Homo sapiens: one gene and its partners. The protein of the gene in region 3 interacts with the protein of the main gene of each other region in a biochemical or structural test. Each region holds a gene or a part of one and is shown on either strand. Other genes may lie near its edges.

Region 1 (6,436 bases), on a different chromosome or scaffold from region 3:
AGATAAAAAATGGTACATCTGTACAGGGTGCTTATCACAAACGGAGCTTGCAGGACTAGAAGTTGGTCTGGGTGAATCAGTGTGAGAAATGTGAAGGCCTACAACATTACTGTACACTATTGTAGACTTCAAAGGCACTGTATACTTAGGCTAATTTTTTTTTTTTTGAGATGGAGTCTTGCTCTTGTCACCCAGGCTGGAGTGCAGTGGCACGATCTCGGCTCACTGCATGCTCCACCTGTGGGTTCAAGCTATTCTCCTGCCTCAGCCTCCTGAGTAGCTGGGATTACGGGCGCCTGCCACCACACCTGGCTAATTTTTGCACTTTTAGTAGGAACAGGGTTTCACCATGTTGGCCAGGCTGGTCTCGAACTTCTAACCTCAGGTAATCCACCTGCCTTGGCCTCCCAAAGTGCTGGGATTACAGGTGTGAGCCACTGTGCCCATCCAGGCTACACTAAATTTATATAAACAAAATTTTCTTTCATCAGTAATACATTAACCGTAGCTTACTGTAACTTCATATGCTTTTTAGTTTTTTTAACTTGTCAACTCTTTTGTAATAACACATAGCTTAAAACACAAATAAATTGTACAGCTGTATAAAAATATTTTTTCTCTAAAGGGTTTTTAAGTGAAAGCAAATTTAGTAATAAAGTAAAGCAATAAAAGAATCTAAGGTTTTTTCCTTTTTTTTTTTTTTTTTTTTTTTTTTTTACTTTTTAAACTTTTTTGTTAAACTTTATTTTTTTGACACAGGGTCTCACTATGTCACCCAGGCTGGAGTGCAGTGGCACAGTATCAGCTCACTGCAATCTCTGCCTCTTGGGTTCTCCTGCCTTGGCCTCGTGAGTAGCAGGGATTACAGGCATGCACCACCAAGCCCAGTTAATTAATTTTTGTATTCTCTGTAGAGACAGGATTTCGCCATTTTGCCCAGGCTGCTTGAAACTCCTGGGCTCAAGCAACCCGCCTGACTCAGCCTCCCCAAGTGCTAGGATTACAGGCGTGAGCCACCATTCCCGGCCACTTTTTAAAATTTTTTGTTAAAAAGACATTCACACGTTAGCCTAGGCCTACACAGGGTCAAGATTGTCAACATCACAGCCTTCCACCTCCACAACGTGTCCCACTGGAATGTCTTCAAGGGGCAATCACATGCATGGAGCTGTCATCTCCTATGGTAACAATGCCTTCTTCTGGAATACCTCCTGAAGGACCTATCTGAAGTTCTTAATAGGTTTGCTTACACTAGCACAGGACCACTGTTGTATATGCAATCTGTCATTCACCAAAACGTTCTTATACAGTGCATGACTGTATATCTCTGTCTACACTAAGGAGAAGAATTGGGAGTCAGGAAATCTACATTTCAGCCCAATTTATCATTGTATTCCTGTTTATATCTTACCTTCTCTTACATGAAACTCAAAGCTCCCTGCCTCATACTCAGCATTCCTCAAAATGTAGATCTATAATCTAATACTTTCTTCACCAATTTATGAGTATGTCAAGTTCATTATATGTCCATGTTTTCATTTTTTTGTCCATTCCACTGCCTAGAATACACTCCATTTTATCTGTACTTACTGAAGTTCTTTAGTATTCAACTTGAATTCTACTTCTCCCACAAAACTTTTCCTCACTAAGCCCCTTCTCTTCTGAACTCTGTAGCTCTTCAAGACAGTAAAAACTCTGTCATGTACTCTGGCACATATAAATCATTCTTACACTATTTCATCATCCCTACTATACCGTAAGATTCTTGAGGGTAGGAGCCATATAGTCAGGCTTTATTGCTTATATCAACTAGAACAATCTTCATTTAATACCTAGGTATTTTTATAAATACCTAACTGAATAAATTTTCTTGCGATTATTTCACCAACCATAATAAAGTCAATGGTCAATAAATCTTCACTGAATAAATGATTGATAAATGGCAATACATAAAGTCAAGGTGTCACCATTGATCACAGCAAACAATAGAGCTACTACTGATACTTATTATAAGAAAATGACTCCCCTTTAAGAGTACAAATAGGGCTGGGGGCGGTGGTTCATGCCTGTAATCGGAGGCTGAGGCAGGCAGATCACATAAGGTCAGGAGTTCGAGACCAGCTTGGCCAACATGGTGAAATCCTGTCTCTACTAAAAATACAAAAAAAAAAAAAAAAAATTAGCCAGGTATGGTGGCACATGCTTGTAATCCCAGCTACTTGGGAGGCTGGGGCAGCAGAATCGCTGGAACCCAGGAGGCGGAGGTTGCAGTGAGCCGAGATCACACCACTGCATTCCAGGCTGGGAGACAGAGCGAGATTCCTCTCAAAAAAAAAAAAAAAGAGTACAAATAATTCAGAATAATCTGTAATTTTCACTTCAGTGGTGAAAAACAAGGTATTTCTGTGTCCCCTACTGCCAACTACTTACTTATACCAACAGGGATAACAGCCCTCAAAAATAATGGTTATTTAACCTTGGGTAAATTACAAACATTTTTAGTTACATCTGTACTGTCATACAGTTACAACCAAAAACTCACAAGTAGATAACCAGATCCTTAGAAATTCACTTAAAATTGATGAAAGAAACGTCTTCATTTCAGAGAAGATGCACTAACCTTTGGGAAAAGACACATTCTATCATCATTGGTATAAGTCAACTTTCAGATCCACTCTACTCCTAAACTATTTTATTAATAACTTCCCTTTTAACCCTTTCTTATCTAATCAAATGTCACTTCTCTTCTTTCAGAAAAAACTCACCATCAATTCCTTAGACCTCATCCTCTCAAAACCTCGCCCCTTTTAAGATTATTTTTTAGAGATCCTAGAATCATCCAAGAGGAAGAAAACTGAAAGGGTGTTTTTCATCTTTGTTCACACAGCTAGTCTCACGGTAAACTCCTTTATCACCTTATTTCAACTCTAAGAAAAGGCAACTTAGCATCTGTAAGTTCATCAAGGAGTACTACTGTTTATTTTCTTTTTTAGGAGTTGAGATTATGTACCTAGCTTCAAGAATTTTTTAATACACAGTGATTTTTCATCACTGGAGATGTATAATGCACGTATTAAATTATAGGTAATTATTCATCACTGGAGAAACTGCCTTCTCATCTGTTGGAATAAACGCCAGAATACGTTTTTCTAAGCTAACATCTTTCTGGTAGCCTAGAAGACAAATGAGGAAACATCTGGGCAAAATATAATACAGGGTAAGCATCCCTAATAAAACATCCAAAATCTCAAACTTTTTGAGCACTGACATGATGCCATGAAAAATTCCCACACCTGACCTCATGTAACAGTTCACAGTCAAAACTGTTTCATGCACAAAATTATTAAAAATTTTGTATAAAATTACCTTCAGGCTATGTGTATAATGTGTATATGAAACAAATTTCATGTTTAGACTTGGGTCCCATCCCCAAGATAGCTCATTATGTATGTATATGCAAATATTCTAAAATCTGAAAAAACCCAAAACTGGAAATACTTCTGGTCCCAAGAATTTCAGATAAAAGATTCTCAACCTGTAAAACCTATCTTCATAGGGCCTTGTCTGGCAGAGCTTAAAAAGAGAGAGAGAAAAGGCAAAACAAAAAACAACAACAAAAAAACCCAGTAGATAAGACAAGAGTGTGTATATATTAAGGGGAGTCAGACATTCTGAATGTGAATAAAAACTAACGTCTATTCTTATTTAAGTTTTGTCTCAAAAACCTACATTTACAGATGTGATAAAACCACACCTTCTACTTACAACTTCAACAAGCTGACCAGCATCTGGCTCTTCTATAATGACTAAACTAGCATATATTTAATTGGCAGAGAAAAAACAACCACGTTCACATTATCAGTTTGCTGCTTTAATGATCTTTGCCTCCACCCCAAGAGGCAATCCACTGATGATTCCATGACACTGTGGGAAATCATTTAACTCTGTTAGTCTACAGATATGTTCCAGATAAAAAACGTTCTGCCTTTACAGATTTCAATGATCTACCCCACCCCCATCCCCAAATATGTAAAGACAAGCACTTTGTAGGCCAGGCGCAGTGGCTCACGCCTGTAATCCCACCACTTTGGGAGGCAGAGGTGGGTGGATCACGAGGTCAAGGAGATCGAGACCATCCTGGCCAACATGGTGAAACCCTGTCTCTTTAGCTGGGCATGGTGGCAGGCGCCTGTAATCCCAGCTACTTGGGAGGCTGAGGCAGGGGAATCGCTTTAACCCAGGAGGCGGAGGTTGCAGTGAGCTGAGATCGCACCACTGCACTCCAGCCTGGCAACAGAGAAAGACTCCGTCTCAACAACAACAACAACAACAAAGCACTTTGTAAACATTTTAATCATTTAGCAGGTACAAATAGCACACAGTAATATTTTATTTATGAGATGGCATCTTGCTCTGTCACCCAGAGTGGAGTTCAGTGGGGTGATACTGGCTCACTGCAACCTCCACTTCCAGGGCTCAAGCAATTCTCCTGCCTCAGCCTCCCAAGCAGCTGGGACTACAGGCGTATACAACTATACCCAGATAATTCTTCTATTTTTAGTAGAGATGGGGTTTCACCATCTTGGCCAGGCTGGTCTCAAACTCCTGGCCTCAAGTGATCCGCCCGCCTCGACCTCCCAAAGTGCCGGGATTACAGACGTGAGCCACCACGCCTGGCCAAATAGCACATAGTAATATTTTAAATCAAATATTAGTAAAACCTCAAAACAATATTCTTACATTAAAAACTTTGTATATATGATCAACGCATAAACACCAACTTGGGAATACAAAAAACGAAATATACCATGACAGCTTTTGTTTTTTTCTTAAGACAGAGTTTCGCTCTTGTCGCCCAGCCTGGCGTGCAATGGTGCAATCTCAGCTCACTGCAACCTCTGCCTTCCAGGTCCAAGTGATTATCCTGCCTCAGCCTCCTGAGTAGCTGGGATTGCAGGCGCCTGCCCCCATGCCCAGCTAATTTTTGTATTTTTAGTAGAGACGGGGTTTCACCATGTTGGCCAGGCTGGTCTCGAACTCCTGACCTCAGGTGATCCACCTACCTCAGCCTCCCAAAGTGCTGGGATCACACAGGCGTCAGCCACCGCGACTGGCCCATGACAGCTTTACTTAATGATGTTTTCTGGAAAGAGATTTGTGCCCTTGCTGCTATATTATTAATCACTTTCTGAGTTTAATCAACTCAAAAAAGTCATAGTGTGTACATTTTAAAGATAAATACAAACAGCATGTATATTTAAAATGTACTACAGCATTCGGGCATGGTGGCTCACGCTTGTAATCCCAACTCTTTGGGAGGCTGAGGCAGGTGGATGGCTTGAGCTCATGAGTTTGAGACCAGCCTGGGCAACATGGCGAAACTCTGTCTCTACAAAAAATTAGCCGGGCCTGGTGGTGCGCGCCTGTTGTCCCACTCACTCAGGAAGCTGAAATGGGAGGATGGCTTGAGCCAGGAAACAGAGGTTGCAGTGAGCCAAGTGTGTGCCACTGCACTCCAGCCTGGGTGATAGAGCCAAACCTTGCCTCAAAAAAATAAATAAATAAAAATAAATAAATAAATAAATAAATAAAAAAGTATTGTAGCTCAATGCTGTTTCGAAAAGCTAGAGGAAAAAAAAAAGGTAGTGAAACGCATTTTGTGCTTTGGCTGAAATACGTATTACTTGGTCCAACTGGTTGACCAAAGGTTTCCCCACGGGGGTAAAAAAATCATCTATGCAGTAAAGTTTATCATCTCAGCAATCATATAGGTGAATCTCACTATTTTTAAATTTAGGTACAAAATATAAAACTCACATAATTACATTAAGAAATACTAGAAAATCGTCAAGGTAAGTTAACAAGTATGTAAAAAATAAATGAATGCAGGGAGAAATCTAGTATAGTAATCAGCCTTACTGGGTAATAATATCCCATGAGCTGTCTGTTAAAAAAAACCCAAAAAAACACCGGACTATATGAAATGTTCTTTCTCATTAAGAAAGAAAGCTATAAAAACCTTTTGGGCCAAAATAATAATTGAAAGAAGTAGTCTGTTCAGAACTGTAAGAACCTCAACAAAAGAGTTAAATTCACCTTGTGAGTTAACTCTTAACCTGGCTTGCTTGCCTCCTCATGTACATTTTGATCATTTTACTAAAACTTTTAAAAACTGGAGTTAAACAGGAAATGAGGGACTTTAAATAACAATTTCCTGTCACAAACTATTTATTTTTCATTCAAATAGAAAGTTTTTCATTTAAAGAAATAAAGGCAAGATGGCAGTTTCCCTTAGTTTAAAAGGTAATATAAGACCTAAGAATAAAAGCAGCTCACTAACTGGTTAATACAGTCTACTTACATAATAAAATGCTTCCAATTGTATGTTAAAAAATGAAGAAGCTCTTTATGTGCTGATACAAAATTGCTAAGCCAT
Region 2 (3,433 bases), on a different chromosome or scaffold from region 3:
AATCCTAGTTCCTCGAGCTTGTAAAAGTTAACCATTCTGAGCATCAGTTTTCTCTTTTGCAAAGTAGGAATAATAAGTCACTGGATCATTGTGAAAATTAAGTTAATGAACGAAGCAGTTATTATTTTAACCACAAACTATGTCACCATATACACAGCCTCATGACCACGATAGCGCTACACCTACCCACAGTAGGACAGAATTCGCTATATAGCAATCCACTTGCTTTGTGGATCACTGACTTATAGCCATGCCCAGAATACAGAAGCTGGATCAATCAATCAAAAATCAAATCCACTGGGAAAATAATCATGTTCTCCAAAACTACACTAAAACTACGTTGGCATCACCCCACCTCCCCACCCTCAATTCATAATTCATCTAGTGTCCATGAGGGCTAAGACTGAGCAACAAGGGCCTTGTGTGTTGTGGAGTCAGCTCTTTCTTTTTCCTCCTCCCCTTTCCCAGAGTCAATATGAAGTCTGACACGCTGCCTTACCAAAGACAAAGACTTCACTTTGCTGAGGATGCCAAGCCAGCGAGGTAGGAAGGTAGCCAGGCGCACTGCAGCCTGCAAAGGAGAGACGAGGGTCTGGACCAAAACTCAGAGTACAGAAGAAGCAGTTTCTCAAATGATATCACTCTAAATCCTGGGAGCACCTTTATTTGATTTCCCAAACCCTGCTAAGGCAGCAGTGTCCTCATCCTTGAGCCTCATAACCATTTATCCCAGCAGCCTCCTGCCCTTTCTGGACACGAGTCACAGGCAAGTTTCAGGCACGAATCATGACGATAACAATTCTGGCCCCTTTGTCCTACCATCTAATAAAGTAAATCACCCACCCAGGAACTGGCCCTTCCTCTTGGTATTCATTGCACAGAATGGGGTTAGCAGAGCCTCACTGGAAAAGAAGGAGATTATGTCACTCATGTCACAGTAACTACACTGGGCATCTAGCAACTATGCTTTGACACTGGCCAAAGACAGTCTCTTCTATCAGGGTTCCAAGTACTATTCTCCCACCAATGAATCTCAGACTCACCAATCTGTGATGCTGGCTTGGGACAGCGGGTATCCCAGAGTAAAATTCTATTGTCCTAGAGGAAGGTGGAACAGAAAAAGGATTTCATAATCCAAAGGAGCAGTTGCAGGCCAGAAAGTCTCCCCACTAGAGACTTTGGCCTATGGATGGCTGGAGTGTGTTTAGGGAAGAAGGAGCTATCTCTTACCTCGCTGCATGAAAGAAACACAGAGTCCTTGTGAGGAGAGGCAGCAACACAAGTGACCTGAGCAGCATGAGCTATAAAGGAGAGAGAAAGAGAAATATGATAGAAAACAAGCTGAAGCATTACTAGAGGGCCAGCCCAGGAATAATCAAGGGGCAGGAGGGAGGGAGGGCTGGTCTCATGATGCAATTTAACAAATTTTGTGGGAGATTATGGATTAGACAAAAGCTAAGAGGAGAAGTTTATAGACTTATAAAACCTAAAAAGCCTTGTAAAAAAAAAACGTATTAGTGAAGATAATGAATGAGAAATTAGGGGCTTAGTAAGAATAACAAAGGAATTTCCAGTTTAGGCATCCTAGACGTGAGGGCTAAATAATTCTAGAATAGCAGTCTTCATACTGGAGTACACACACCTCCAAGTAGTATACAAAAACTTTTGAGGGAGTTCTGGGCGCTAATAGTATTAAGAGAGCCAATTTCTCTAATGTTCTCTTTCTTAAAATTGAACTGCCTCTGTTTTCAATCACTCTTCTCCCACTTCATAGAAAGAACACATACCTGTCATTCATCCCAGATCTTTCCACGCTACAATGCTCAGGGGTATAAAAATATAAGGGTTCTAAACTAAGGGACAAAAGGGGCTTTTCCATAAGAACCAAAGAGCAAAAAGAAAGAGCATCTAGGTAAAATTCAATGAAGGGGGCTGATCTTGTTTCAGTCACACCACAAACACAAGTATGGCTCTGTGACTTAACTCTGTTTCTGTCTAATAATGAGAACTAAAAAATATGATAGATCATTGTGATAAGGACATATTCAACAACTTTATCTGAATTTAAAAACAAAGTCAGACTTTTTCTGACAGAAAATTTAGTCTATCTTGGTCCACTGGCTTTACAATGCAGACTGGCTTTTGCCAGTTAGGCTGTTTGGTAGACATTCATGCAAACTAAGTAGCGTTAACCTGCGAATCTAAAATTTTGACAAATATATGCTTGAAATAAGCACACAATAAATTATATGCCAGAAATTACCTTCTCTGCAACTACTTAAATAAGCATTTTTAGGTATCAGTTTAAAAATGTATGAGGGGGCACAGATTTTCAAAACTGTTTTAGGAGGTCTACATGTAAAAAACTTTAAAGTCACTGCTACATGTTAATTAGAAGCTGTGGAAACCTTTTCTACAGTCATTTTACCAGACTTTCCCAGGTAGTCTGAATGTGGCCCTTCCCTGAGGCAGAAGGATGGAATTAAACCAGTTTCCATAGTTCTTTCCTAGCCCTAGAATTCATAGAAAGCCAACAGGATAAGAAGTAAGAAAAGGAATTTATTGCTCACTTGAAAAAAGCAAAGCTCTGGGACAAGCACCATGGTGGTGTACAAAAGATGAATACATGGTTCCTCTACCCTCAAAGGTTTTGGGGCAGGGTGCAGTGGCTCATGCCTGTATCTCTCAGCACTTTGGGAGGCCAAGGCAGGAGACCACTTGAGCCCAGGAATTTGAGACCAGCCTGGGCAACATAGCAAGACTCTGTCTCTACAAAAAATAGAAAAATAATAAAGGATTTGGAATTCAGCAGGGGGAATAAGACACAAACACAAAGAACTAACAAAAAGGCTGCATGGCAGAAATGCTGAAAAAGAGTTAGCATTAACCAGGAAAGCACATCATATGTCTAAGAAATAAAAAGCAAATATAATAGACATAGAACATTGACTTTTTTTTTTTCCCTGAGACAGTTTCACTCTGTTGCCCAGGCTGGAGTGCAGTGGCGTGATCTCGACTCACTGCAACCTCCGCCTCCAGGGTTCAAGCACTTCTCGGGCCTCAGCCTCCCAAGTAGCTGGGATTACAGATGTGCACCACTACGCCTGGCTAATTTTTGTACTTTTTGGTAGAGTCAAGGTTTCGGCATGTTGGCCAGACTAGTCTCTGACTCCTAGACTTCATATGATCCACCCGCCTCAGCCTCCCAAAGTGCTGGGATTACAGGCGTTAAGCCACTGCGCACAGCTGGGCATTCAACATTATTGTAAAACTATTTCCAAGTGACCCTGAGGGTCCAGGATACTGGACCTTGGATATGAGTCAGTGATTTCTCTGGCCTATAACTTAGTCATGTACTTTGAAGTTAGAAATGGCAGGGAAAGGCACTTAGCCATTGAGAGAACCACAGTGATCCCCCAGCATCTAAACCTTG
Region 3 (6,436 bases):
AAACAAACTTACCCACTGAACAGAGCTGCTGCCACTTTTGTGTGCCCCAGGTCCTTAACAGGTAACCCCAGAGATTAAAGTGATGCTGATAGGTTCAGATGCTAGGGAGATTGGGGAGCTGAAGCTGCCTGGCTCCACTGCAAGCCAGGGACTTGGGTTGCTCAAAAAGAAACAAGAAAGGTGCTTCCCCAAAGAATAGGAATTCAAGTAGTCTGTAACAATCAACAATGAATGGGTCATAGCAGAGGTTTCTCAACCCTGGCTGAATATTATAATCACTTTGGGAGTAAAAATAATATACCTATACCTCAGGTCTACCCCAGAGCAATTAAATCATAGGCTCTGGAGGTGGTGCCCAGCAAATGTATGTTTTAAAGCTCCCTAGGTGATTGTAACATACAGCTATGTTTGAGAACCAATGGGCTAGGTAGGGAAATGATCACTTGTTTAGGAGAATAAACAAGAAGGCATCAACTAAACTACACGTACAATTTGTCTACACGTACAATTTGGCAAAAAAAAAAATCCAGCTATGCTTTCGCAGGCCCCTAGTGCTTAAAGGTTTTAGCCAATAGAGACATTCAACTCTTTAGATGAACACTTTATCCTGGTCTTTTGTTTAATATCACACACAAATGTACACACACAACAAACACACACACTCCTCTTGTCATCTTCCTATTAGAGTGGTTATCAAATTTTGCTACACGTTAAAGTTACATGGAGAATCATCAAAAATTACTGATATGTAGCTTCCAACACCCGGACATTCTGATTTTAATTGGTTTGTGGTACAATCTAGGAATTGGATTTTTATGTTCCCCATGTGATTCTAATGCGCAGGAAAGTTTGGGAACCGCCGTCCTACATTATTTCTTCCACTAGTCCCAGAGTCCTTCTGCTTCCTATTTAATTATTGGTGAACAGATACACCCCAGAGAATGACCTATATGTTATTCATAAAGTTTTCCTGCAGCTACCTAATCCCCATGACCCTTTGGGCAGTAAGAGAGCCTAGTGGCTAAGGAGAAAAGCTCTGGAGCTCAAATTCAGGCTCAACCTAGTGTGACTGTGGGCAAGTTGCTTCACTTCTCTGCGCCCCAGAGTTCTTTTTCTCATGCTGTGAAATTGGGATAATCCAGAATCTTCCTCATAGGGTTGTTTTTGTCCTAAAAAAAAGATGATCAGGTGGGGTGCGGTGGCTTACATATGTATTCCCAGCACTTTCTTTGGAGGCCCAGATGCTGGAGAATCATTTGAGGCCAGAAGTTCAAGACCAGCCTGTGCAACTGAGACCCTGTCTCTACAGAAAAAAATTAAAAATTATCCAGGTGTGGTGCTATGTGCCTATAATCTTGGCTACTCTGGAGGCTGAGGCAAGAGGATCACTTGAGCCCAGGAGTTTGAAGCTGCAGTGAGCTATGGCTGTGTCACTGCACTCCAGCCTGGGCAATAAGACAGAAAGAACCTGTCTCAATCAATCAATCAATCATTCAATCAATGAAAGAGACAATCTATATAAAGCACAGGAGCAGTGCCTGGCACAGAGTTAGTGCTCCATAAATGTTACCCAATCTGATGATGATGAGCAGTGTAATTCTTGATGCTTTCATTCAGAAGCAGGATGCACTGAGTTGTTGCCCTTATTCTTGTCCTCTGCACTGTTGGCTGCACAAACACCACCAAGTCCTCAATGATGTCAAATTAAGGAGCATTTCAAAGGGACAATACAATGCATTCAAAACAAGCACTGGTCTAATGGGAAACTATCTTCAGTATAGCTCCCTAAGAAGGCAAGCCTTCGATATACTCTAATTTGGGTGTCTCTTCTCTATGGCAGTCTTCATCCATAAAGTACTATCTTACTTGCAAGCTCTTTTCCAGTCTTGTCACCTATTTACTTGCACACAAAGCCTATCACTATTTTCCAACTTCCTTGCAAATATGGCATAGTTTTACCAATACCCATCTCGTTTCGCCCTTTCTTGTTCCCTCGATATGCATTTCTTCTTCTCACTCTACTCTCCAGCTTTTTTCATTGCTTATAAATTTCACGCTTAAAATATAGGCAGCCTCTAGAAGCTGAAAAAGACAAGATATGGAGTCTCCCCTAGAGCCTCCAGAAGGAATGCTTATATGAATTTTATAAGCAATGAAAAAAGCTGGAGAGTAGTATGCTTATAAAATTCATTCAGAAATAAGACAGTTTTGAGAGTGTACTATTAGTTCCACATTGTGTTAAACATCTGTTTTGTGTAGCTGAAGTTTTTGTGCTATTGTTTATATTTACAGGACAGTTTTGGAGGGAGAAAATTCCTCTGCTCTTACAAACAAAATTATCCTTAGAGAGTTCAAACAGGTTGCACATACTGAACTTCTCAGAAAATAAATTTTAAGGAAGTGCTGAGGAACACAGTCGTTACAGAAGATGGTGAGAGGGAAGCAGAACCGGTGTCAGAACTGAGTGTGAGGAAGCAGACAAGGGCTGTCGGGGAAGGGGTGGCAAACAGTACCAGCTCAACAATTCAGATTAGGATACAAAATGCCAAGGATGTGATTGCATAATAAGTTGTTGAGCATACTGGTAAATGCTGCTTTCAGCATGTGCTTATTTATCACATTGTCTTGCGTTCTCTGAGCTTGAAAGGTTCAAGTCAGAGGATCTGGAATGCTAGCAACAGACCCAGTTTCTTGGGATGGGCTGCAGCACCTATGGTAGAGATGGCAGAAAGAGCAGCAGCCTGGTGTTCGAATATGGTTGCTAGGATACCATGGAGACCCTCCATTGCTAGGCAGACAGAAAAAAAAATGTGTCCATATGCCTTATAACCTGCAAACAGCAACAATAGAAACATCATCTGTGTTCTTCTACCCTTTCCCATTAGGAATCCAGATAACAAGTAGCAGGAGCTTGGAAATGTGACCCAGTAGAGCAAGGAAGCTGGTAATTTATATTCTCAGGCAGGTAGTAGAGCCATTCTATTTAAGAGCTTACCAGTATCTTCATTATAAGACCCATTTTGGGGGCATGCAACTTGACTGTGCTTCAAAATACCCTAATAGGGTTTTAGCACGCTGGTCTCATACATTTTTATAAATGCTCCCGGGACTTCATTTCTACTGCATAAACTGTAATGTCAAATTAACAATCAACCTTAAATTAGAAACTCTATTAGAATAACATTAGGTTGGAATTTAACTCCTCCACAAAAACAAGAAAGATGACTTTCGAAAAACAACTTCAGGTTCAATTCTCATTGATGTTCAGTTTGCCTAGGTATGTGAGGAATCTGCAGTGCTAGTCTGTGGCATCAAGTTAGATTACTTTCAATGAGAACATTTGGAAGTGAGTGGAAAAAGGAACTTGGAACTTGGTTTCTTTAAGACTTCTAATCATCTGCTGTTTGCTTCAATTAACTACTCTTACCTAGTTATATAGTTACGACTATTAACAGGACTGTGATGGTGGGGGTAAGAAAGCTGAACTGATATTCTGGCATTCAGAACTGCATTAGTGGGTAACTATTAGTCCTTGGTGTAAAACACACACACACACACACACACACAAATGAGCCTTAGCTATTCTAAAACCCAAAAGAATGCCCTCTCGCCTACTTTATCAAATCATAGAAACCAAGATTCTCATTCTCACTGGCCTAAACTTGCTTTTCCACAGTTCCCACTACAGTACTTTAGCACAGCCACTAGTTGCTCCCAATTCCCAGAGGGGCCCTGCTTTCTTTTTCTGTGCTGTCACTTTGCTAATGGCTTGGAATGTATTTCCCCAATCCCTATCTCTATCCCTCCCTCTTTCCTCTCATTTCCACTCACCTAAATCATAGCCCTTCTTCAAATACTTACTTTAAACCCTTCTACTTCCACATGAGTTTCTGACACCATAAAACCAAACAGGCTTGATTATATTTTGCCAACTCTCTTAGTTATCTCCCCTGTGACTTACCTTACTCTATCTACTTTCTAGAATATTTACTTGTGCAGTATTGTTAACCCCTTGTTCACTCCTGGATGGTAGGACCTATGTAGCTCTTACCTCTAATGCCTTACAATATTTTGCATGTCACAGGCAATCCCATAGAAGTATTGAACTGAGATGTAGGGCACTTTTGGAATTAAATTTCTACCTTTCAAGCCATCTATGTTTTAATATTATGCCATCTATGATTACACTAGAATTCTAGAATTCTCTCAACTTCCAACAGAATTTAATATACAGTCTTTAGGAACATTTTGTTTTTCTTGAGATATATCAGTATAAAGTTTAAAAGATTAAATAATCTCTTAAAATGAATGCCTCCTTAAAAATAAAAATAGGCCGGGTGCGGTGGCTCACACCTGTAATCCCAGCATTTTGGGAGGCCAAGGCAGGCGGATCATGAGGTCAGGAGATCAAGACCATCCTGGTAACACTGTGAAACCCCGTCTCTACTGAAAATACAAAAAAATTAGCCGGGCGTGGTGGCTGGCGCCTGTAGTCCCAGCTACTCAGGAGGCTGAGGCAAGAGAATGGTGTGAACCCGGGAGGCAGAGCTTGCAGTGAGCTGAGATGGCACCACTGCACTCCAGCCTGGGCGATAGAGCGAGACTCCGTCTCAATAAATAAATAAATAAATAAATAAATAAATAAATAAATAAATATAAATAAATATTTTTATCCTCAACTCCTCCAAAGTACTTCGCAATGAAAAAGTGAAACAGGGGCCAGGTGTGGTGGCTCACATCTGTAATCTCAGCACTTTTGGAGGCCCAGGTGGGCTGATAACCTGAGTTCAGGAGTTCAAGATCAGCCTGGCCAAAATGGCGAAACCCCATCTCTACTAAAAAAAAAAAAAAAAAAAAAAAATAGCCAGGCATTGGTGGCACGTGCCTGTAATCCCAGCCACTCAGGAGGCTGCGATGGGAGAGTTGCTTGAACCCTGGAGGCGGAGGTTACAGTGAGCCAAGATCGTGCCACTGCACTCCATCCTGGGTGACAGAGTGAGACTCTGTCTCAACAACAACAACAAAGGAAAAAGAAAGGAAACAAAATAGAACATGGAGTGAAAGCAACAGCTTACAAAAATACAAAGACACTAACCACTTTTAGGAACTCAAGTCTATATAATCCAACTGAAATGACTGAAACCCTGTGACATGAAAATGGAAAAGATTTGGGAATATTTTCAAAAGATAAGGGGTTTAGATCAAAATTTCAGAGACTGAATGTTCTAACATGATATAGAATCAATTTCAGGAATGAAACTTCATGAAATAAAATTACTTAAGTCCATAAGAACTATTCTATATAGGCAATCAACAGGCTATCTGATCTCACATAATGAATGCTTAGGTTTTGTTTTTCATTTTAAGGGTTTATTTGCTCAGTTTATTTCCAAATATAGTTTAGTAGTTTTACATTCTCAAGGAGTTATTTGGTAGCAGTGGAATACAGATTCCAATTTGCTACATCAGTTCTTTCCTTCACATAAGTATTGTATCTATACAGATTGTGAAAGAGACCAATAAAAACCCTCCTCCTACCTCATAGTTATAGCAGGAGTGTCCTGGCTCAGTGCTGGAATCTGACAGAACCTTCCCTCCAATTCCCACATTAAAGGAAAAATTCCAAGCCAAAAATGTTAAAATGATTCAAGTTATTAAGTTAATTTACATTTTATACTATTTTTAAATGACCAAATTTACCAAGAAACCAGAACTAAAAAAAATTATAATCCTCAGAAGGCAACCTTAGTAAGTAAAAACTAAACAGATATATTTGCATATATCAGATAAATGAACAGAACATTAGCGGGGCAGTTACCTACATCTAAAAAAAAGAGAATCAAAAACTAGCATGAACGTAAACTGGAAATTAATGTGTCTATTTAGATAGTTTCATTTTAACTGGAAACTCACAATAATCTATATGTATGTTTAAGAAAGATGGCTACATTTAAGATGTAGTAAAGATGAAATACAAAGACACAAACACTTGTTGCCAGTAAGTCCGTGTAATCAAATTATTCATAGTGAAATACATTGAAAGGCAAACAAGTCTTCTTTGGTTTGGCAGGTTTTCTTAACTCTTTGTGGAGCTACCTTGTACAACCATTCAAACAACATAAGATTTATTCATTTTGCATACAATGTACTTCTTTTTTCCCTAAGAAAGGTACACTTTCTACTACTCAAGCCAATTTTTTTCTAGTTTTCTTTATGTAAGTGTGAAAAAAGAACAGATGTTTTTCCAAAATTATTTAAGCTTGGAAGGCATTCTATCATTTTCCTCAATAAAATACTTCAGAGTCACCCAAAGCATCATGGCAATACCTTAAGAGCTGAGTCCTTTAAAATACAAGTTATTAGTAAGAAATCAGTATCAGGACACACAGTGTTGTTTGATAGATAAAATGTTATTATAATGATAGATAAAATGTTA
Region 4 (6,436 bases), on a different chromosome or scaffold from region 3:
ATAAGGAAAATTTCTTCTTCTTTTTTTTTTTTTTTTTTGTTTTTGAGATGGAGTTTTGCTCTTGCTGCCCAGGCTGGAGTGCAGTGGCACGATCTTGGCTCATTGCAACCTCTGCCTGCTGGGTTCAAGTGATTCTCCTGCCTCAGTCTCCCAAGTAGCTGGGATTACAGGCACGTGCCACCACGCCCAGCTAATTTTTGTACTTTTAGTAGAGATGGGTTTCATCATGTTGGCCAGGTTGGTCTTGAACTTCTGACCTCAGGTAATCCACCTGCTTTGGCCTCCCAAAGTGCTGGGATTACAGGTGTGAGCCATCGCACCTGGCCAGAAGTTTTAAACATATACAAGAGTGCAGCTTAAAAAGCAGTTTTTCTGACTCCAGAGCTAATTCAGCCCTGCCACAAACACAAACCCACATACCCATCTCCCAGTGTCAAACACAATCAACTCATGCTAATCCCACTTCATCCAGTTTCCTTACTTTTTAATGATGAACTTAATTTTGGCTTTGTTTCTGAGTATCTTCTCCAGCCTCGGAATGCCAAAAGTCGATGGTCTTCGGAATGGCACACCCTCAGGTAAGCCTTCCACATAAAAGTCTTCCGGGAAAGACTCAAATAACGCGAACGGCACCTTCACAGCTTGTTTAAGGCCAAGAGCTTCCCCTGCAAAACAGCCGCGTACACGAAACAGAACATGGGCGAAATGACGCCATTCAATCCCGAAAAACCCACACGTTGCCAATGACAGGGATACTCCAACGCTCAGTATCCCACTCTGCTCCCTCCTACTCCCATGAAGGCACCCTGCGTGGCAGTAAGAAGGTTTCAAAATAGACTTACCACATTTCTCATTGAAGAGATTTTCAACTTTCTGTTTTAGGTCCGTGATTTTGGCATTCCAGGCCTCTGCATATAAAACATAAGAGAGTTAAATTGCAATACTTATCACAGTACTTATCAATACACATTCACAGGCAGGAGTGTTTCATCTTATTTGTGCATCTTATTTTTTTTTTGTTGAGACAGAGTTTCGCTCTTGTTACCCAGGCTGGAGGGCAATGGTGCGATCTCTGCTCACTGCAACCTCCACCTCCTGAGTTCAAGCAGTTCTCCTGCCTCAGCCTCCTGAGTAGCTGGGATTACAGGCATGCGCCACCATGCCTGGCTAATTTTGTATTTTTGGTAGACACGGGGTTTCTCCATGTTGGTCAGGCTGGTCTCGAACTCCCAACCTCAGGTGATCCGCCCACCTCGGCCTCCCAAAGTGTTGGGATTACAGGCGTGAGCCACTGCGCCTGGCCTTATTTGTGCATCTTTAAGAAGAAATAAAAAATGCATAATCTTTTACCATGATATGACTTGACAACTACTCCCATCCTGATACATAAGCAAACTGTTTTAGTACATTGCTTTTATGTTGACTACAAATAAGTGAACAAATGCTAAAATAAAGAAAAAACAAATGAAAACCCCCAAAATGCCCCCACAAATTATAGTCTCTACTACATGCGAGGTATGGTTCTAAGTACTTTAAATGACAGTATTTATAATCCTCACCATAACCTCATGAGAAAGAAAGTAATGTTATTACCATTTTGCACAAAGGGAAACTGAGGCAGGGTGTATTCGCCTGCCCAAGTGGCATCGGATTTGAACTCAGATCTGAACTCAGGCAGCCTGGCTCTACGGGCTATTCCTTTAACCTTTGATATATACTGACTCACCAATAGGAACAATTCACCTGGTAAAATGAAACATAATGAACGTATTCTATTTAAAACTATGAAAGAAAGAAAAATAAAACGCTTACTTACCAAAGGAAAACTCTCTCCCTCGTGGCTTGAAGGGAACGTTAGAACCGTTAGTCTGGGTCGGGGTTCGAACAGCTGAGGTTTGAGGATTGTTGTTATTAGGGCCTAAAAGACAGAAAAAATAATGATAATCAACACACATTTAATGACGTAAGTGTCTCTAGGTTACAATCTTCAAGTCCAGCCTGTGCCAGAAAACAAAGCTAGGTTCAAATTGAAATGGGTATTCTTGTCATTCCGGCGAGTTCCACAGAAACCATTTTTCTATTTCTACAGAAACCCATTTTTCTTCTCTTCTTCTTCTTCTTCTTTTTTTTTTTTTTTTTTGAGACAAAGTTTCGCTCTTGTTGCCCAGGCTGGAGTGCAATGGCGCAATCTCGGCTCACCACAACCTCTGCCTCCTGGTTTCAAGCGATTGTCTTGCCTCAGCCTCCTGAGTAGCTGGGATTACAGGCATGCGCCACCAGGCCCAGATAATTTTGTATTTTCAGTAGAGATGGGGTTTCTCCATGTTGGTCAGGCTGGTCTCGATCTCCCAACCTCAGGTGATCCGCCTGCCTCGGCCTCCCAAAGTGCTGGGATTACAGGCGTGAGCCTCCACGCCTGGCCCTAATTTTGTATTCTTAAAGCAGGCCTCCCAGGCCCCGTGAACTTGGCTCTGCCCTTTAGGAAAGGCTGGCATCTTGTATATAAGAGAGATCTTCCTCTGATCTCTTCCGGAAGGAGGAAAGTCAAGGGTTCAATATATTTTTAATTCTTGGCATTTTTGAACAGAAATAATTAATCAGGTGTAAGTTGTCCATGGATGCTTGTTGGCTATCTTATGAGAAAGCAGGCTCTCTGAAAGTGTGCCACATGACTAAATAGGGACTTCTGCGCCACTCAACACCAGTACGGCAAACTCTTATTTAAAAACTTGACACCTGGGATGTAGAGAATGATCCTAATGCAGTGATTTCCTTCTGCATTTATGAAGAGATGGAAGAAATATCCATACTTGACAGTTGGTTGGAGATTGTCTTTAGTATTGTATGCAGTATTTTAACACTGTGAGCCTGAAAAGACAAGAACCAGCTGGGCGTGGTGGCTCACTTGAGGTCAGGGGTTCGAGACCAGCCTGGCCAACGTGGTAAAACCCCGTCTCTACTAAAGATATAAAAATTAGCTGGAGTTGGTGGTGGACGCCTGTAATCCCAGCTACCTGGGAGGCTGAGGCAGGAGAATCACTTGAACCCGGGAGGCGGAGGCTGCAGTGAGCCGAGATTGTGCCACTGCACTCCACCCTGGGCAAGAGAGCCAGACTCTGTCTCAAAAAAGAAAAAGAAAATACTTTTATTCAAGGCACTGCTGTTTAAACCACCCTAAACTTTCTTTCCTTAAAACAATAGAAAAAAATGAAGAGGAAAAAAAAGATAAAACATTCCACATGACTCTGCACCCTTATTTGTTATGATAAAGGAAAAGCATTTTAGGACTTTTCTTGGGGGAAGTTTATGATGTGATCCATGTTATCTGTTTTCTATTAAGGATTTAAAAATTTTCAATTAGAAGCATTCAGAAATTTAGCTTTATCACAGGCAGCTGTTCACAGTTAAAAGCTAGTTTGGTTAACGTCATCTGTATAAACCTGTATAAACACATAGCTAGTGAACTGACATAATTAGTAAACTAGAGAATGAACAGAAACATACCGAGGACTGGCCCTTACCTTCCACGGTGACCTCAATTTCAGGAACCTTTGAATTACTCCCAGGACTTCGTGGTCTTTTGGGGGACTGCAAAGCTGTAAAATAAGCAGAGTTCCTTTTGTATATTGTAGGGAAAAAAAAATACAGAAGGAGATGCTTTATAAGAGCAGAGTATTAAAATTCATACAGTTTGGTTCTTTTCAAAGAAACCTGCAGAATTAAACTTGTAGTGTAATCCTCCACAGGGGCTCAACAAAGCTGTGAAAACATGAATGAACTGGGATTGCAAATGTGACATTTCCAATGAAATGTTTTGTTTTTTTAAAAAAAAAAAAGAAAAATAGTTCCATTAAATAAAATACCTTAGAAAGCAAAGTAAACAACTCCAAGCCCCACAGAGATATTGGCCGATTCCGTATGATTTAAGGAATGCGGATAAAGAGTGTCTTAATGCGCTCAAATAGGATACGGAGTACACGTCGTCTCTTACCTTTAGTGTTTATTTTACTAGCCATCCCAGGAGGCAAGTAGGAAATAACTAGTTCAGGTCTAGAAAGAAAACCAAGAAGTGTTACAGTAGCCAGCACAGTGGTGGCCTCACAGCTAGTAAAACGGTCGTGATGTGATCAGGGTTTTTTTTCTAAAGGCATTCACAGAATCATCCTGTAACACAATAATTCCTAGTGTTGTGGACAAAAGACCCTGACTTTTCCTTCCCATGACTGGTAAGCCATTTTATGAAGAGTAAATAAGTGACTATTTTCATTAAAAAAGAAAAAAAAAACACTAGTGTACTTTCTTTAGCCACTAAAATTCTGCAGAAATGTAGATAAGAAAATCAATCATTAGGCCGTGCACGGTGGCTCATGCCTGTAATCCCAGCATTCTGGGAGGCTGAGGCGGGTGGATCACCTGAGGTCAGGAATTCCAGACCAGCCTAGCCAACACGGTGAAGCTCCATCTATTCTAAAAATACAAAAATTAGCCAGGCGTGGCGGTGCAAGTCTGTAATCCCAGCTACTCGGGAGGCTGAGGCACGAGAATTGCTCGAACCCAGGAGGCGGAGGTTGCAGTGAGCTGAGATTGCGCCACCGCACTCAAGCCTGGGCGACAGAGCAAGAGTCCGTCTCAAAAAAAAGAAAGAAACTCAATCATCAATATTTAGTCGCTCTCAAGATTGACCAGGAATAACAGAGCAGATAAAAACCAGCAAATTAAACTTCCATTCAAGTACTCAGGCATACTGCGAGTCACCACGGGGCCTCACGGTGACTCCGCGGAGGCGATTGTCACTATTTTCCTTGCACGGATGAAGATGATTGAGTATGGGCAGGGGCAATGGACAGTACCCGGACTGCAGCTCACAGCCAGGCTTTGCCATCAAGGACTTACAGCCACGCCTGTCACCTCTAGCTTGAAAAACATCTTAACAGAAATGTCATTTTATTGTTTTGATTCCAGAAACGACTACAGTGGCAAAAAGAACTTACTTTTTAACAACGAACTTGATTTTATTACTCCCGCGGACGATCCTTTCAAGTCGTGGAATTCCAAACCAGGTAGGGCTTCGGAAGGGAATCCCCTCTGGCAAGCCTTCCACATACAAGAACTCCGGGTTTGATTCAAACACAGGATATGGTACTTTTACTGCCTCGGTGAGTCCAAGAGCTTGAGCTGAAAGTGCAAGAGAACGTTAAGTTGCGGAGGATAACATTTGACACAGACATTCTTTCTTTGTGTCTACATTCTCGAGTACAGTATGGACAAGCTCCCTACGGTCAAGCAATATCCACTTCATATTGAAGGCATTTTGCTTAGGATATGGGGCAAATCTGAAGAACGAGCCTAAAAAATAAGTGCTTTTAGGAGGAACATTTTAACACTTTCAATCAAAAGGAGAGTTATGTTATTAGTGAAAATGACCTCTATGCTCTGGGCAGAAATGACCGAAGGCCATTCCACACAGCAGTGGACCCTGCTGGCCTTTGTGTTATCATCAAGAAGCAGGGTGTCTGTTCACAAACAGGCGGTGTCTACGATACAGCTAAGCAGCACTCAGTTCGAGTGGTCAGAGGCAGGGTAGTCAGGACTCCTGATCTGAGACAGGAAATGTCAACCCCAGGTATTGAGATAATGGACAGAAGTGCCCCGGGAATTTTGCTAGCACTGCCCACTCCTTACTTCCTTCTCCATGACAGACACACCCAATCAACTGAAACACTCTTTCTTGCTGAGCCTCCTCAGAATCGTTCTCAAGACAGCACTCCAGGAAACCGCTGTCAACAAATCTAAGCTGAAACAAATGATGAAACCTATTTGCCACATGGGTGTTAGCCAGACGAGAAGTACAAACAGTGGAACTGAAACTTATCCCAACACCTCCCTTCCTCTCCCATTCTGACACGTGAGAAAGTGGAATCCAAGAGAAATGAAGTCATCTGCTTGGTTTCAGTAGCAAGTGTAGTGGTAGAAAGAAACAGAAACCCAGTTTCTGGGACCTTCCTTCTTTAGGTCCTGAACTTTTTTTCCTTCTTTTTTTTTTTTTTTTGAGACAGAGTCTCACTCTGTCGCCCAGGCTGGAGTGCAGTGGTGCGATTTTGGCTCACTGCAAGCTCCGCCTCTGGGGTTCAAGCCATTCCCCTGCCTCAGCCTCCCGAGTAGCTGGGACTACAGGCGCCCGCCACCACGCCCGGCTAATTTTCCTGTATTTTTAGTAGAGACGGGGTTTCATCGTGTTCGCCAGGATGGTCTCGATCTCCTGACCTCCTGATCCGCCCGCCTTGGCCTCCCAAAGTGCTGCGATTACAGGCGTGAGCCACTGCACCCGGCTGGTCCCGAACTTCTATACTTCATTCAGACATGGCCCTTTGTTGATATGTTATTAAAGACATAAATACTGGCTTTTACTTACCAAATTTCAAATTAAAAATCTCTT

The links.
Region 1: of the proteins of PRKG1 (region 3) and CREB1, one has a biochemical effect on the other in vitro, tested with the Homo sapiens proteins (one study listed by BioGRID).
Region 2: the proteins of PRKG1 (region 3) and WDR77 form a complex in vitro, tested with the Homo sapiens proteins (one study listed by BioGRID).
Region 4: the proteins of PRKG1 (region 3) and GTF2I form a complex in vitro, tested with the Homo sapiens proteins (one study listed by BioGRID).

The regions. Positions count from the first base shown.
Region 1 is NC_000002.12:207,534,951-207,541,386, reverse strand, and holds part of CREB1 (cyclic AMP-responsive element-binding protein 1), read right to left. Parts: intron 1-6,436.
Region 2 is NC_000001.11:111,442,824-111,446,256, forward strand, and holds part of WDR77 (methylosome protein WDR77), read right to left. Parts: intron 1,302-3,433; coding exon 1,231-1,301; intron 1,099-1,230; coding exon 1,044-1,098; intron 572-1,043; coding exon 500-571; intron 1-499. UniProt on the Homo sapiens protein: Non-catalytic component of the methylosome complex, composed of PRMT5, WDR77 and CLNS1A, which modifies specific arginines to dimethylarginines in several spliceosomal Sm proteins and histones.
Region 3 is NC_000010.11:51,076,811-51,083,246, reverse strand, and holds part of PRKG1 (cGMP-dependent protein kinase 1), read right to left. Parts: intron 1-6,436. UniProt on the Homo sapiens protein: Serine/threonine protein kinase that acts as a key mediator of the nitric oxide (NO)/cGMP signaling pathway. GMP binding activates PRKG1, which phosphorylates serines and threonines on many cellular proteins.
Region 4 is NC_000007.14:74,743,497-74,749,932, reverse strand, and holds part of GTF2I (general transcription factor II-I), read right to left. Parts: coding exon 6,413-6,436; intron 5,176-6,412; coding exon 4,992-5,175; intron 4,051-4,991; coding exon 3,992-4,050; intron 3,597-3,991; coding exon 3,522-3,596; intron 1,919-3,521; coding exon 1,817-1,918; intron 909-1,816; coding exon 843-908; intron 666-842; coding exon 482-665; intron 1-481. UniProt on the Homo sapiens protein: Interacts with the basal transcription machinery by coordinating the formation of a multiprotein complex at the C-FOS promoter, and linking specific signal responsive activator complexes.